Regions from separate parts of the Homo sapiens genome. Here regions 2 and 3 are each linked to region 1. Evidence: fine-mapped expression QTL. A gene starts in region 1. Each other region holds a variant in brackets. All regions are shown on one strand. Distances are between the middles of the regions.

The links. PIP is the estimated chance that this variant, and not a neighbour inherited with it, causes the effect. A credible set is the group of variants that fine-mapping cannot tell apart.
Region 2: its variant is the best candidate, but not a certain one, in a credible set for the expression of LAS1L in whole blood (TOPMed, PIP 0.87).
Region 3: its variant is the best candidate, but not a certain one, in a credible set for the expression of LAS1L in tibial nerve (GTEx, PIP 0.68).

What each region holds. Positions count from the first base shown.
Region 1 is chrX:65,532,758-65,537,001 of GRCh38, forward strand. LAS1L (LAS1 like ribosome biogenesis factor) reads right to left here and starts at 2,030. Exons shown (of 14, transcript NM_031206.7): 1 at 1,723-2,030; 2 at 853-978. The coding sequence starts at 1,958. RefSeq lists an enhancer at 2,125-2,304.
Region 2 is chrX:65,561,857-65,566,100 of GRCh38, forward strand. No RefSeq gene overlaps it. Among named protein-coding and RNA genes, the nearest start is that of LAS1L, 29 kb to the left of the region's middle. The variant C/A (reference allele first, on the strand shown) is at 1,755.
Region 3 is chrX:64,616,615-64,620,858 of GRCh38, forward strand. No RefSeq gene overlaps it. Among named protein-coding and RNA genes, the nearest start is that of MTMR8, 220 kb to the left of the region's middle. The variant A/G (reference allele first, on the strand shown) is at 2,438.

The DNA.
Region 1 (4,244 bases):
GTGTCAGCCAGAGCAGGGACAGTTCCATCCATTCCAACATTTAATGAGAGTCTGCCCTATAATGAAGCCATACAGATGAATAAGACACTGCTCTAGCCTTGAACAGTTCGGTCTAGGATAAATAATAATGATACAATGTAACATATTAGGCTAGAACATAATATGTTATAAATGCTGCAAAGGACTACATCAGATAATGGGGAGCACAGCTAACCAATGGAGAAAATAAGAAGAGAAAGGGAGGATCTCAAGGCAGACAAGGGGAAATAGATAAGCAAAGACTTTGACAGATATGAAAACTCAGTAGCAACCTTTTTTTCCGACGTGTATACAGCTAGAACCATTATGAGTCACTTTGTAAGTCAGGAATTCCCAGCCCATGTCTCCACTTCCATAACTCAGCAATCTTTCAGTGTTCATGAGGGAGAGAAGGGGAAAAGGGTAGTGCTAGGAATAGACAGGGACAGGGTTGGAAAGTCCACATTAAATCACAGGCGAGGACCCTGAGCCATTCAGACAAGTTCCTCTGGGTGAGGAATTCAAAGGTAAGAAAAAATATCAGACCACCAAGAGACCCACAGAGATCACCTGGTCTGAATCCCTTCCTCCACATTCCAAGATAGAAAGAAAAATGGAAGAGAAGGCTTTCAGGAAAAAGGAAGAAAAAGAGGAATGCGTTGACGAGGGTACCAAAAGCTGATAAGTCAAGCAATAATCACAGGCTGATCCACAGTGAGGTACACGCAGGGTTTTGCTTCAGGTAACACCTGAAGCCAAGTTTTGCTTATCACATGCCTCCCCTGCCTCCAGTCCCCAAAGCCAACCTCCACCCCTACCCCATGCAGGTCTTACCTGACCAATGCCATGCCATAGAGCAGTCTAAGTTCATCAGTGCCCAAGCCACCAGTTACATCCAAGAGCTTACAGCGTATCAGGTCAGCAGTAGAAGCCACTGCCAGAGGGAGTTCGTTGCCTGACCTAAAGGGTCACAGTCCAGCACCATCATAAAGAGCCCTTACACTGGTCCACCCTCCACCTCAGAACCTAGGTTGTTGCAGGCTACACCCATCATATTCTGGTTCAAGAGAGCATGAACAGACACAAAACAAGAAGGTGGGAGGAGACACGGTAATGTCTGTGGGATCCAACAGTATACAGGGCATGAGGAGCTGACTAGGCCGTATACAGGACACCTAACTGGTAGACTGTCCATCAACAGTTGTGTGGACACACCCCTTTCTTTCACCCCCAAATCAACTCATTGAGCTAGAGGAGCCCCTTATCCCTTGTAAGTCGGCTCCCAACTCAATCTTACCAACTGGACTGAGGCGCCCCACTCAAACACTGTCTTGCAGGCAAGACTTCCTCCCCATTGGAATCGGAAATCTACCCTAGGGTACTAATCTACTCCTTAAGCCCTGGCTCAGGCCTCACTAGTCCCTCCGGCATCCTCTCCAAGTTGGGAGAAAGTCACTTTTTGGAGGTAATGGGTAAACCTCACAGATATAACAAGAGAATTGTTGAGGCACAACCCCTTACTTTCCATTCCGCTAACGGGATTAGCGCAAGAGATGGCTGCCGCGTTCCCCCAGGCATTTGGGAGAGGGACAACTTTAGGCGACTTAGGGGAAGACTGGAGAACAGGGCCTTATAGAAACTCGACAAAGGAAGAGGTGCAGCGCCACCAGCACGCAGGCAAAAGGGCCGAACCCGCCACCTTACCTGCTCCTCCACACCGTGATGCGGTTAAGCGCGTACCGCTGCAACTTATGGTCGTCACAGAACAGATAAACCGTCACCTGGTCCCACTCGGCCCTGCTGAGCCAGGCGACCACGATGCCGTGGGCCGAGAGTGGCAACGACCCTTTCCCTTTAACGCACTTTCCGTACCACGCACTCCACACGAGATCCATCCCCTGGGAACCTAGACCTGGCCCGGCCCCGGATTCCCACGACATACTGAGCTCAACAACAGGCTCTGTGCCGCGCCGCTCCGCACAGCCTTCAGCTCAGCGTGCTACCCTCACTCCGAACCGCCACCGCACCAGCAGCCAATAGGAGAGCGTGACCCCATACGCAAGCCCGCCTTCCAGCGTCAGCATGGCCAATCGGAACGTCAGAATTGGGCGCCGACCTAATGACATGCGGGGTTAAAAACTCACCGGCCGGAAGTGTTCTTTTCACAAAGCAAACCCTCCAGGGGCAAGAGTTCAGCCTCTAGGTTCCGCCAATTTCCTGGTTGCTAACCGGCTTCTGTACCAGACCGGAAGCGGTATGTCTTCACTGCAAGAGGAATTTTATTTTGCTCCCCTCGGCGGGTGGCAGCTTGATTGTAGTCATCCAGTGAACTGAAAATGCGATTTTAAGTATATTTTTATTGCCGTGAATCAGGACCTAACCTAGTAAAACACTGGACACTGAAGCAGGGCTACAGAGGAAATATCTCATATCGAAACAGTTACAGTTGGGTTGAAAAAATCTGCTTTTGTGGCAGGTAACCAGGGGCCCTGCCTTTTAAATTAGTACCAGCCTGGCCAGGCGTGGTGGCTCACGCCTGTAATCCCAGCACATTGGGAGGCCCAGGCGGGCGGATCACTTGAGGTCAGGAGTTCCAGACCAGCCTGGCCAAAATGGTGAAACCCGGTCTCTAGTAAAAATACAAAAATTAGCTAAGCATGGTTGCACATGCCTGTAATCCCAGTTACTCAGGAGGCTGAGGCACAAGAATCGCTTGAATCCGGGAGGCGGAGGCTGCAACAAGCCAAGATCGCACCAGTGCACTCCACCCTGGGTGACAGATCGAGACTCTGTCTCAAAAGTAAATTAAATAAATACATACATAAATAAATAAATAAATACCAGCCTAGAGACCTGAGTTTTACTCTAAATTTTGCCACTAACTATGTGGACTTAGACTAGTCTCAGTTTTCCCATCTGTACAGTGAGAGTTGTAGACTGGTCTCTAGGTTCTCTGTCATAGCAGAAAATTGTAGAATTTTACTCTGCCAACATTCCACTGCTATGTTGGTTTCAACATCCACCAAGGTATACTTAGTTTTTCTGCAAAATTCCTTGGTATTTTGGAGTTCTGGGAGAAAAGCGGTATTATGAAGTTCCTCCGATTTTACGAGTTGACTGAAATATGTTTAGGACTATGTCCCAATCCTTCTTGCAGAAGTTATTTTCCAATGTAACACTTGAGAGAGAGAGAGAGAGAACTGTTGCTAACGATCTTAACAGCATTGCTGTGAGTGGCACTTTTACGCTTCACAGCAACAAATCCCAATTCATCCTCTATATGTGCTTCTTTCTCCAGCCAACTTTTCCTAAGATATAGTCTGCCTATAGTTATTTTATTTTTCTTTTTTTCTTTTTCTTTTTTTTTTTGACATGGCGTCTGGCCCAGTCGCCCAGGCTGGAGTGCAGTGGCACAATTCTCGGCTCACTGCAACCTCTACCTCCAGGGTTCAAGTGATTCTCTTGCCTCAGCCTTCCAAGTAGCTGGGATTACAGGCGCCTGCCACTATGCTTGGCTAATTTTTGTATTGTTAGTAGAGACAGGGTTTCACCATGTTGGCCAGGCTGGTCTGGAACTCCTGACCTCAAGTGATCCACCAGCCCAGGCCTCCCAAAGTGCTAGGATTACAGGCATGAGCCACCGTGCCCGGCCTGCCTATGGTTCTTGACTGACAGTTACTCTGTCCCAAGTAGCCATGCCAACCAGTTGGCCAGGTGTCTGCCTGAAACCAGATACCCTTTTTCCTTCAGGATCATGACAGTGTGCTGGCAAAGAAGTCTGGGGAGTGGTTTCTATGACTCCTCAAGATACAGGCCAGTCAGAGGAGCTGCCAGATCTGCGGCAATCATTCACACACATTTTGGGGTTTATAGGCTAAAAATTTTGCATAGTCCTTTTCAGGCAAAGACCCCTATTTATCCCCATTCCATCCACATAAAGCTGAAGTTCTCTCTATTCCGTGTGTTCTAAGAAAACATGACCAAAGCATGTAACAAGAGCATTATGTCTAATATGTGGCAAATGGGGCCTGAGACCTATTGAGAATTAGGAATTAGTGGACGAAGTGTGTCAAATAGTGGTAATTTTGAAGAAGCACTGCGTTAGTTTCCTGTTGTTGCTATAGCAAATTACCACAAACTTGGTGGTTTAAAACAACAGACATTTATTTTCTCGTAGTTCTGGAGGCCAAAAGTTTGATAACAGTATCACTGAGCTGAAATCAAGG
Region 2 (4,244 bases), 29 kb after region 1:
AGTTCGAGACCAGCCTGACCAACATGGAGAAACCTCGTCTCTACTAAAAATACAAAATTATCCAGGCATGGTGGTGCATTCCTGTAATCCCAGCTACTTGGGAGGCTGAGGCAGGAGAATCACTTGAATCCGGAAGGCGGCAGTTTCGGTGAGCTGAGATCGTGCCATTGCACTCCAGCCTGGGCAACAAAAGCGAAAGTCCATCTCTAAATAAATAAATAAATAAATAAATAAATAAATAAATAGAGAAAATAGTAAGATTGATATCCATCTTCCTAGTCTTCAGGAGGATATTCCTCCCTTGCCTGTACACGCCTTTCCCCTACACATACACTCTGAGCTGAAGCATCTTATCCATCTGTCAGAGGCTGGTTCAAGTTGTAGGCTTGAAGGCTGGGATTTGAGTCTTGACCTAGGCGAAAACAAGGACCAGGGCCTGGCCAGGAAAGGATCAAAAGGATACTGTTCACAACAACCCTTCCTATGAGTAGTGGGCATTTTATCCAACAAAACCTGTTCATGTTCACATTTGTTTTGTTTTGTTTTGTTTTGTTTTTTTGAGATGGAGTCTTTCTTTGTCGCCCAGGCTGGAGTGCAGTGACGTGATCTCAATTCACTGCGACCTCCGCCTCCCAGCTTCAAGTGATTCTCCTGCCTCAGCCTCCCAGTAGCTAGGATTACAGGTGTGCACCACCATGTCTGGCTAATTTTTTTTTATTTTTAATAGAGATGGGGTTTCACCATGTTGGCCAGGCTGGTCTTGAACTCCTGACCTCAGGTGATCCGCTCGCCTCGGCCTCCCAAAGTGCTGGAATTACAGGCGTGTGTCACCATGGCTGGCCATGTTCATACTCTTTCTTCTTTTTTAATTTTCTTCTTCTTCTTATACTTTAAGTTCTGGAGTATATGTGCAGAACTTGCAGGTTTGTTACATAGGTATACATGTGCCATGGTGGTTTGCTGCACCCATCAACCTGTCATCTACATTAGGTATCTCTCCTAGTGCTATCCCTCCTCTAGCCCCCTACCCCCTGACAGGCCCCAGTGTGTGATGTTCCCCACCCTGTGTCCATGTGTTCTCATTGTTCAACTCCCACTTATGAGTGAGAACGTGAGGTGTTTGGTTTTATGTTCTTGTGTTAGTTTGGTAAGAATGATGGTTTCCAGCTTCATCCATGTCCCTGCAAAGGACTTGAACTCATCCTTTTTTATGGCTGCATAGTATTCCATGGTGTATGTGTGCCACATTTTCTTTATCTAGTCTATCATTGATGGACATTTGGGTTGGTTCCAAGTCTTTGCTATTGTGAACAGTGCCACAATAAACATACATGTGCATGTGTCTTTATAGTAGAATGATTCATAAACCTCTTGGTATATACTCAGTAATGGGATTGCTGGGTCAAATGGTATTTCTGTTTCTAGATCTTTGAGGAATCGCCACACTGTCTTCCACAATGTTTGAACTAACTTGCACTCCCACCAGCAGTGTAAAAGCATTCCTATTTCTCCACATCCTCTCCAGCATCTGTTGTTTCCTGACATTTTAATGATCCCCTTTCTAACTGGCATAAGATGATATCTCATTGTGATTTTGATTTACATTTCTCTAATGACCAGTGATGATGACCCTTTTTTTTCATGTTTGTTGGCTGTATAAATGTCTTCTTTTGCTGGGTGTGGTGGCTCACGCCTGTAATCCCAGCACTTTGGGAGCCTGAGGTGGGTGGATCACGAGGTCAGGAGTTCAAGAC[C/A]AGCCTGGCCAAGATGCTGAAACCGCGTCTCTACTAAAAATACAAAAATTAGCCAGGCATGGTGGCAGGCACCTCTAATCCCCACTACTTGGGAGGCTGAGGTAGGAGAATCACTTGAACCCTGGGTGGGTGGAGGTTGCAGTGAGCCAAGATTGCACCACTGCATTCCAGCCTGGGTGACAGAGTGACACTCCATCTCAAAAAATAAATAAATAAAATAAAATAAAATAAAAATAAATGTCTTCTTTTGAGAAATGTCTGTTCATATCCTTCGCCCACTTTTTGTTGGGGTTGTTTGTTTTTTTTCTTGTAAATTTGTTTAAGTTCTTTGTAGATTCTGGATATTAGCCTTTGTCAGATGGATAGATTGCAAAAATTTTCTCCCATTCTGTAGGTTGCCTGTTCACTCTGATGATAGTTTCTTTTGCTGTGCAGAAGCTCTTTAGTTTAATTACATCCCATTTGTCAATTTTGGCTTTTGTTGCCATTGCTTTTGATGTTTTAGTCATGAAGTTTTTGTCCATGCCTGTGTCCTGAATGGTATTGCCTTGGATTTCTTCTAGGGTTTTTATGGTTTTAGGTCTTACATTTAAGTCTTTAATCCATCTTGAGTTAATTTTTGTATAAGGTGTAAAGAAGGGGTCCAGTTTCATTTTTCCGTATATGGCTTACCAGTTTTCCCAACACCATTTATTAAATAGGGAATCCTTTTCCTATTGCTTGTTTTTGTCAGGTTTACCAAAGGTCAGATGGTTGTAGATGTGTGGTGTTATTTCTGAGGCCTCTATTCTGTTCCATTGGTCTATATATCTGTTTTGGTACCAGTACCATGTGGTTTTGGTTACTGTAGACTCGTAGTATAGTTTGAAGTCAGGTAGCGTGATGCCTCCAGCTTTGTTCTTCTTGCTTAGGATTGTCTGCTATGTGGGCTCTTTTTTGGTTCCATATGAAATTTAAAGTAGTATTTTTCTAATTGTGTGAAGAAAGTCAATTGTAGCTTGATGGGGATAGCATTGAATCTATAAATTACTTTGGTCATTATGGCCATTTTCACGATATTGATTCCTCCTATCCATGAACATGGAATGTTTTTCCATTTGTTTGTGTCCTTCTTTAATTTGTTGAGCAGTGGTTTGTAGTTCTCCTTGAAGAGGTCCTTCACATCCCTTGTAAGTTGTATTCCTAAGTATTTTATTCTCTTAGTAGCAATTGTGAATGTTGTGAATGGGAGTTCATTCATGATTTGGCTCTCTGTCTATTACTGATGTATAGGTATGTTTGTGATTTTTGCACATTAATTTTGTATCCTGAGACTTTGCTGAATTTGCTTATCAGCTTAAAAATATTTTGGGCTGAGATGATGGGGTTTTCTAAATATACAATCATGTCATCTACAAAACAGAGACAATTTGACTTCCTCTCTTCCTGTTTGAGTACCCTTTATTTCTTTATCTTGCCTGATTGCCCTGGCCAGAACTTCCAATATTAGGTTGAAGAGGAGTGGTGAGAGAGAGCATCCCTGTCTTGTGCCAGTTTTCAAAGGGAATGCTTCCAGTTTTTGCCCATTCAGTATGATGATGGCTGTGGGTTTGTCATAAATAGCTCTTATTATTTTGAGATACATTCCATCAACACCTAGTTTATTGAGAGTTTGTAGCATGAAAAGGTGTTGAATTTTGTCAAAGGCCTTTACTGCATCTTTTGAGATAATCATGTGGTTTTTGTCATTGGTACTGTTTATGTGGTGGATTACAGTTATTGATTTGTGGATGTTGAACCAGCCTTCCATCCTAGGGATGAAGCCGACTTGGTCATGGTGGATAAGCTTTTTGATGTGCTGCTGGATTCGGTTTGCCAGTATTTTATTGAAGATTTTTGCATCGATATTCATCAGGGATATTGGCCTGAAATTTTCTTTTTTTTGTTGTGTCTCTGCCAGGTTTTGGTATAAGCATGATGCTGGCATCATCAAATGAGTTAGGGAGGAGTCCCTCTTTTGCTATTGTTTGGAATAGTTTCAGAAGGAATGATAACAGCTCCTTCTCTCTCTTCTTCTTCATTATTCTGGCTAGCAGTCTATCTATTTTGTTGATCTTTTCACAAAACCAGCTCCTGGATTCATTGATATTTTGAAGGGTTTTTTTTGTGTATCTATATCCTTCAGTTCTGCTCTGATCTTAGTTATTTCTTGTCTTCTGCTAACTTTTGAATTTGTTTGCTCTTGATTCTCTAGTTCTTTTAATTGTGATGTTAGGGTGTCAACTTTAGATCTTTCCTGCTTTCTCTTGTAGGCATTTAGTGCTATAAATTTCCCTCTAAACACTACTTGAGCTGTGTTCCAGAGATTCTGGTACGTTGTATCTTTGGTCTCATTGGTTTCAAAGAATTTATTTATTTCTGCCTTAATTTCATTATTTACCCAGTAGTAATTCAGCAGCAGGTTGTTCAGTTTCCAGTAGTTGTGCGTTTTTGAGTTAGTTTCTTAATCCT
Region 3 (4,244 bases), 920 kb before region 1:
ACATGTGCACAATGTGCAGGTTAGTTACATATGTATACATGTGCCATGCTGGTGCGCTGCACCCACTAACTCGTCATCTAGCATTAGGTATATCTCGAATGCTATCCCTCCTCCCTCCCCCCACCCCACAACAGTCCTCAGAGTGTGATGTTCCCCTTCCTGTGTCCATGTGTTCTCATTGTTCAATTCCCACATGAGTGAGAATATGCAGTGTTTGTTTTTTTGTTCTTGAGATAGTTTACTGGGAATGATGATTTCCAATTTCATCCATGTCCCTACAAAGGACATGAACTCATCATTTTATATGGCTGCATAGTATTCCATGGTGTATATGTGCCACATTTTCTTAATCCAGTCTATCATTGTTGGACATTTGGCTTGGTTCCAAGTCTTTGCTATTGTGAATAATGCCACAATAAAAATACATGTGCATGTGTCTTTATAGCAGCATGATTCATAGTCCTTTGGGTATATACCCAGTAATGGGATGGCTGGGTCAAATGGTATTTCTAGTTCTAGATCCCTGAGGAATCACCACACTGACTTCCACAATGGTTGAACTAGTTTACAGTCCCACCAACAGTGTAAAAGTGTTCCTATTTCTCCACATCCTCTCCAGCACCTGTTGTTTCCTGACTTTTTAATGATTGCCATTCTAACTGGTATGAGATGGTATCTCAATTTGGTTTTGATTTGCATTTCTCTGATGGCCAGTGATGGTAAGAATTTTTTCATGTGTTTTTTGGCTGCATAAATGTCTTCTTTTGAGAAGTGTCTGTTCATGTCCTTCGCCCACTTTTTGATGGGGTTGTTTGTTTTTTTCTTGTAAATTTGTTTGAGTTCATTGTAGATTCTAGATATTAGCCCTTTGTCAGATGAGTAGGTTGTGAAAATTTTCTCCCATTTTATAGGTTGCCTGTTCACTCCGATGGTAGTTTCTTTTGCTGTGCAGAAGCTCTTTAGTTTAATTAGATCCCATTTGTCAATTTTGGCTTTTGTTGCCATTGCTTTTGGTGTTTTAGACATGAAGTCCTTGCCCAAGCCTATGTCCTGAATGGTATTGCCTAGGTTTTCTTCTAGGGATTTTATGGTTTTAGGTCTAACATTTAAGTCTTTAATCCATCTTGAATTGATTTTTGTATAAGGTGTAAGGAAGGGATCCAGTTTCAGCTTACTACATCTGGCTAGCCAGTTTTCCCGGCACCATTTATTAAATAGGGAATCCTTTCCCCATCGCTTGTTTTTCTCAGGTTTGTCAAAGATCAGATAGTTGTAGATATGTGGCATTATTTCTGAGGGCTCTGTTCTGTTCCTCTGATCTGTTCTGATCAGATTCTCTGATCTATATCTCTGTTTTGGTAACAGTACCATGCTGTTTTGGTTACTGTAGCCTTGTAGTATAGTTTGAAGTCAGGTAGTGTGATGCCTCCAGCTTTGTTCTTTTGGCTTAGGATTGACTTGGTGATGCGGGCTCTTTTTTGGTTCCATATGAACTTTAAAGTAGTTTTTTTCCAATTCTGTGAAGAAAGTCATTGGTAGCTTGATGGGGATGGCATTGAATCTGTAAATTACCTTGGGCAGTATGGCCATTTTCACGATATTGATTCTTCCTACCCATGAGCATGGAATGTTCTTCCATTTGTTTGTATCCTCTTTTATTTCATTGAGCAGTGGTTTGTAGTTCTCCTTGAAGAGGTCTTTCACATCCCTTGTAAGTTGGATTCCTGGGTATTTTATTCTCTTTGAAGCAATTGTGAATGGGAGTTCACTCATGATTTGGCTCTCTGTTTGTCTGTTGTTGGTATATAAGAATGCTTGTGATTTTTGCACATTGGTTTTGTATCCTGAGACTTTGCTGAAGTTGCTTATCACCTTAAGGAGATTTTGGGCTGAGACAATGGGGTTTTCTAGATATACAATCATGTTGTCTGCAAACAGGGACAATTTGACTTCCTCTTTTCCTAATTGAATACCCTTTATTTCCTTCTCCTGCCTGGTTGCCCTGGCCAGAACTTCCAACACTATGTTGAATAGGAGTGGTGAGAGAGAGCATCCCTGTGTTGTGCCAGTTTTCAAAGGGAATGCTTCCAGTTTTTGCTCATTCAGTATGATATTGTCTGTGGGTTTGTCATAGATAGCTCTTATTATTTTGAGATACGTCCCATCAATACCTAATTTATTGAGAGTTTTTAGCATGAAGTGTTGTTGAATTTTTTCAAAGGCCTTTTCTTCATCTATTGAGATAATCATGTGTTTTTTTGTCTTTGGTTCTGTTTATATGCTGGATTACATTTATTGATTTGCATATATTGAACCAGCCTTGCATCCCAGGGATGAAACACATTCAAAAGCTAGCAGAAGGCAAGAAATAACTAAAATCAGAGCAGAACTGAAGGAAATACAGACACAAAAAACCCTTCAAAAAATTAATGAATCC[A/G]GGAGCTGGTTTTTTGAAAGGATCAACAAAATTGATAGACCGCTAGCAAGACTAATAAAGAAAAAAAGAGAGAAGAATCAAATAGATGTAATAAAAAATGATAAAGGGGATATCAACACCAATCCCACAGAAATACAAACTACCATCAGAGAATACTACAAACACCTCTACGCAAATAAACTAGAAAATCTAGAAGAAATGGATAAATTCCTCCACACATACACTCTCCCAAGACTAAACCAGGAAGAATTTGAATTTCTGAATAGACCAATAACAGGATCTGAAATTGTGGCAATAATCAATACCTTACCAACCAAAAAGAGTGCAGGATGAGATGGATTCACAGCCGAATTCTACCAGAGGTACAAGGAGGAACTGGTACCATTCCTTCTGAAACTATTCCAATCAATAGAAAAAGAGGGAGTCCTCCCTAACTGATTTTACGAGGCCAGCATCATCCTGATACCAAAGGCGGGCAGAGACACAACCAAAAAAGAGAATTTTAGACCAATATCCTTGATGAACATTGTTGCAAAAATCCTCATAAAATACTGGCAAACCAAATTCAGCAGCACATCAAAAACTTTATCCACCATGATCAAATTTCCTTCTTAATTTCTTTATTGACCCTTCAGTTGTTCAGGAGCATATTGTTTAATTTACATGTGTTTGTGTATTTTCTGAGGTTTCTCTTGTTATTGATTTCTAATTTTATTCCATTGTGGTCAGAAAAGATATTTGATAGGATTTTTATTTAAAACATTGTTCAGACTTGTTTGTGGCCTAATATATGGTCTATTCTGAAGAATGTTCCATGTGCTGCTGAAAATAATGTGTATTCTGCAGCAGTTGAGTGAAATGTTTTGTAAATGTCAGTTAAGCCTATTATATCTAATGTGTAGTTTAACTCCGCTGTTTCTTTGTTACTTTTCTGTCTGGATGAAGTCTGCTTTTATGTATTGATGATCTGTCAATTACGGAGAGTGAGGTATTAAAGGTCCCTACTATTATTGTATTGTAGTCTATCTCTCTTTAGGTCTATTAATCTTTGCTTATGTACTTGGGAACTCTGATATTGGATGCATAGATATTTATAATATTTATGTTCTTGCTGAATTGACCCCTTTATCATTATATAGTGACTTGTTTTTTTATACAGTGTTTGATTTGTAATATATTTTATCTGATATGAATATAGCTGCTACTGCTCTTTTATTGGTTTATTTTTTCTTTTTTTTTTTTTTTTTTTCTTGGAGATGGAGTTTCGCTCTTGTCACCCAGGCTGAATCTCAGCTCACTGCAACGTCTGCCTCCCAGGTTCAAGCAATTCTCCTGCATCAGCCACCCAAATAGCTTGGGATTACAGGCGTGTGCTACTGTGCCTGGGCCTTTTTTTTTTTAATTTCTAGTTGTATAAAATATCTTTTCTACTCCTTCACCTTCATTTTATGTGTTTATAGGTGAAGTGGGTTTCATGAAGGCAGGATGTAGTTGGATCTTGTATCTTTGTACACTCAACCACTCTGTGTCTTTTAATTGCAAAATGGAGACCATCACATTCATTGTTACTATTGATAAGAAAGGACTTACTACTACCATTTTGTTGCTTGTATTCTCGTTGTTTTGAGACTCCTCTCTTACTTTCATCCTTTATTTATGTCTTACTTTGCAGTTAAGTGATTATTTCTGGTAGTATGTTTTAAAGTGTTGCTTTTTATTTTTAGTGAATCTGTTATAGAGTTTTGTACTGTGAGTATCATGAAGCTTACAAGAAAAGCACCTTATAAATACAAGTTATTTAAAAGAT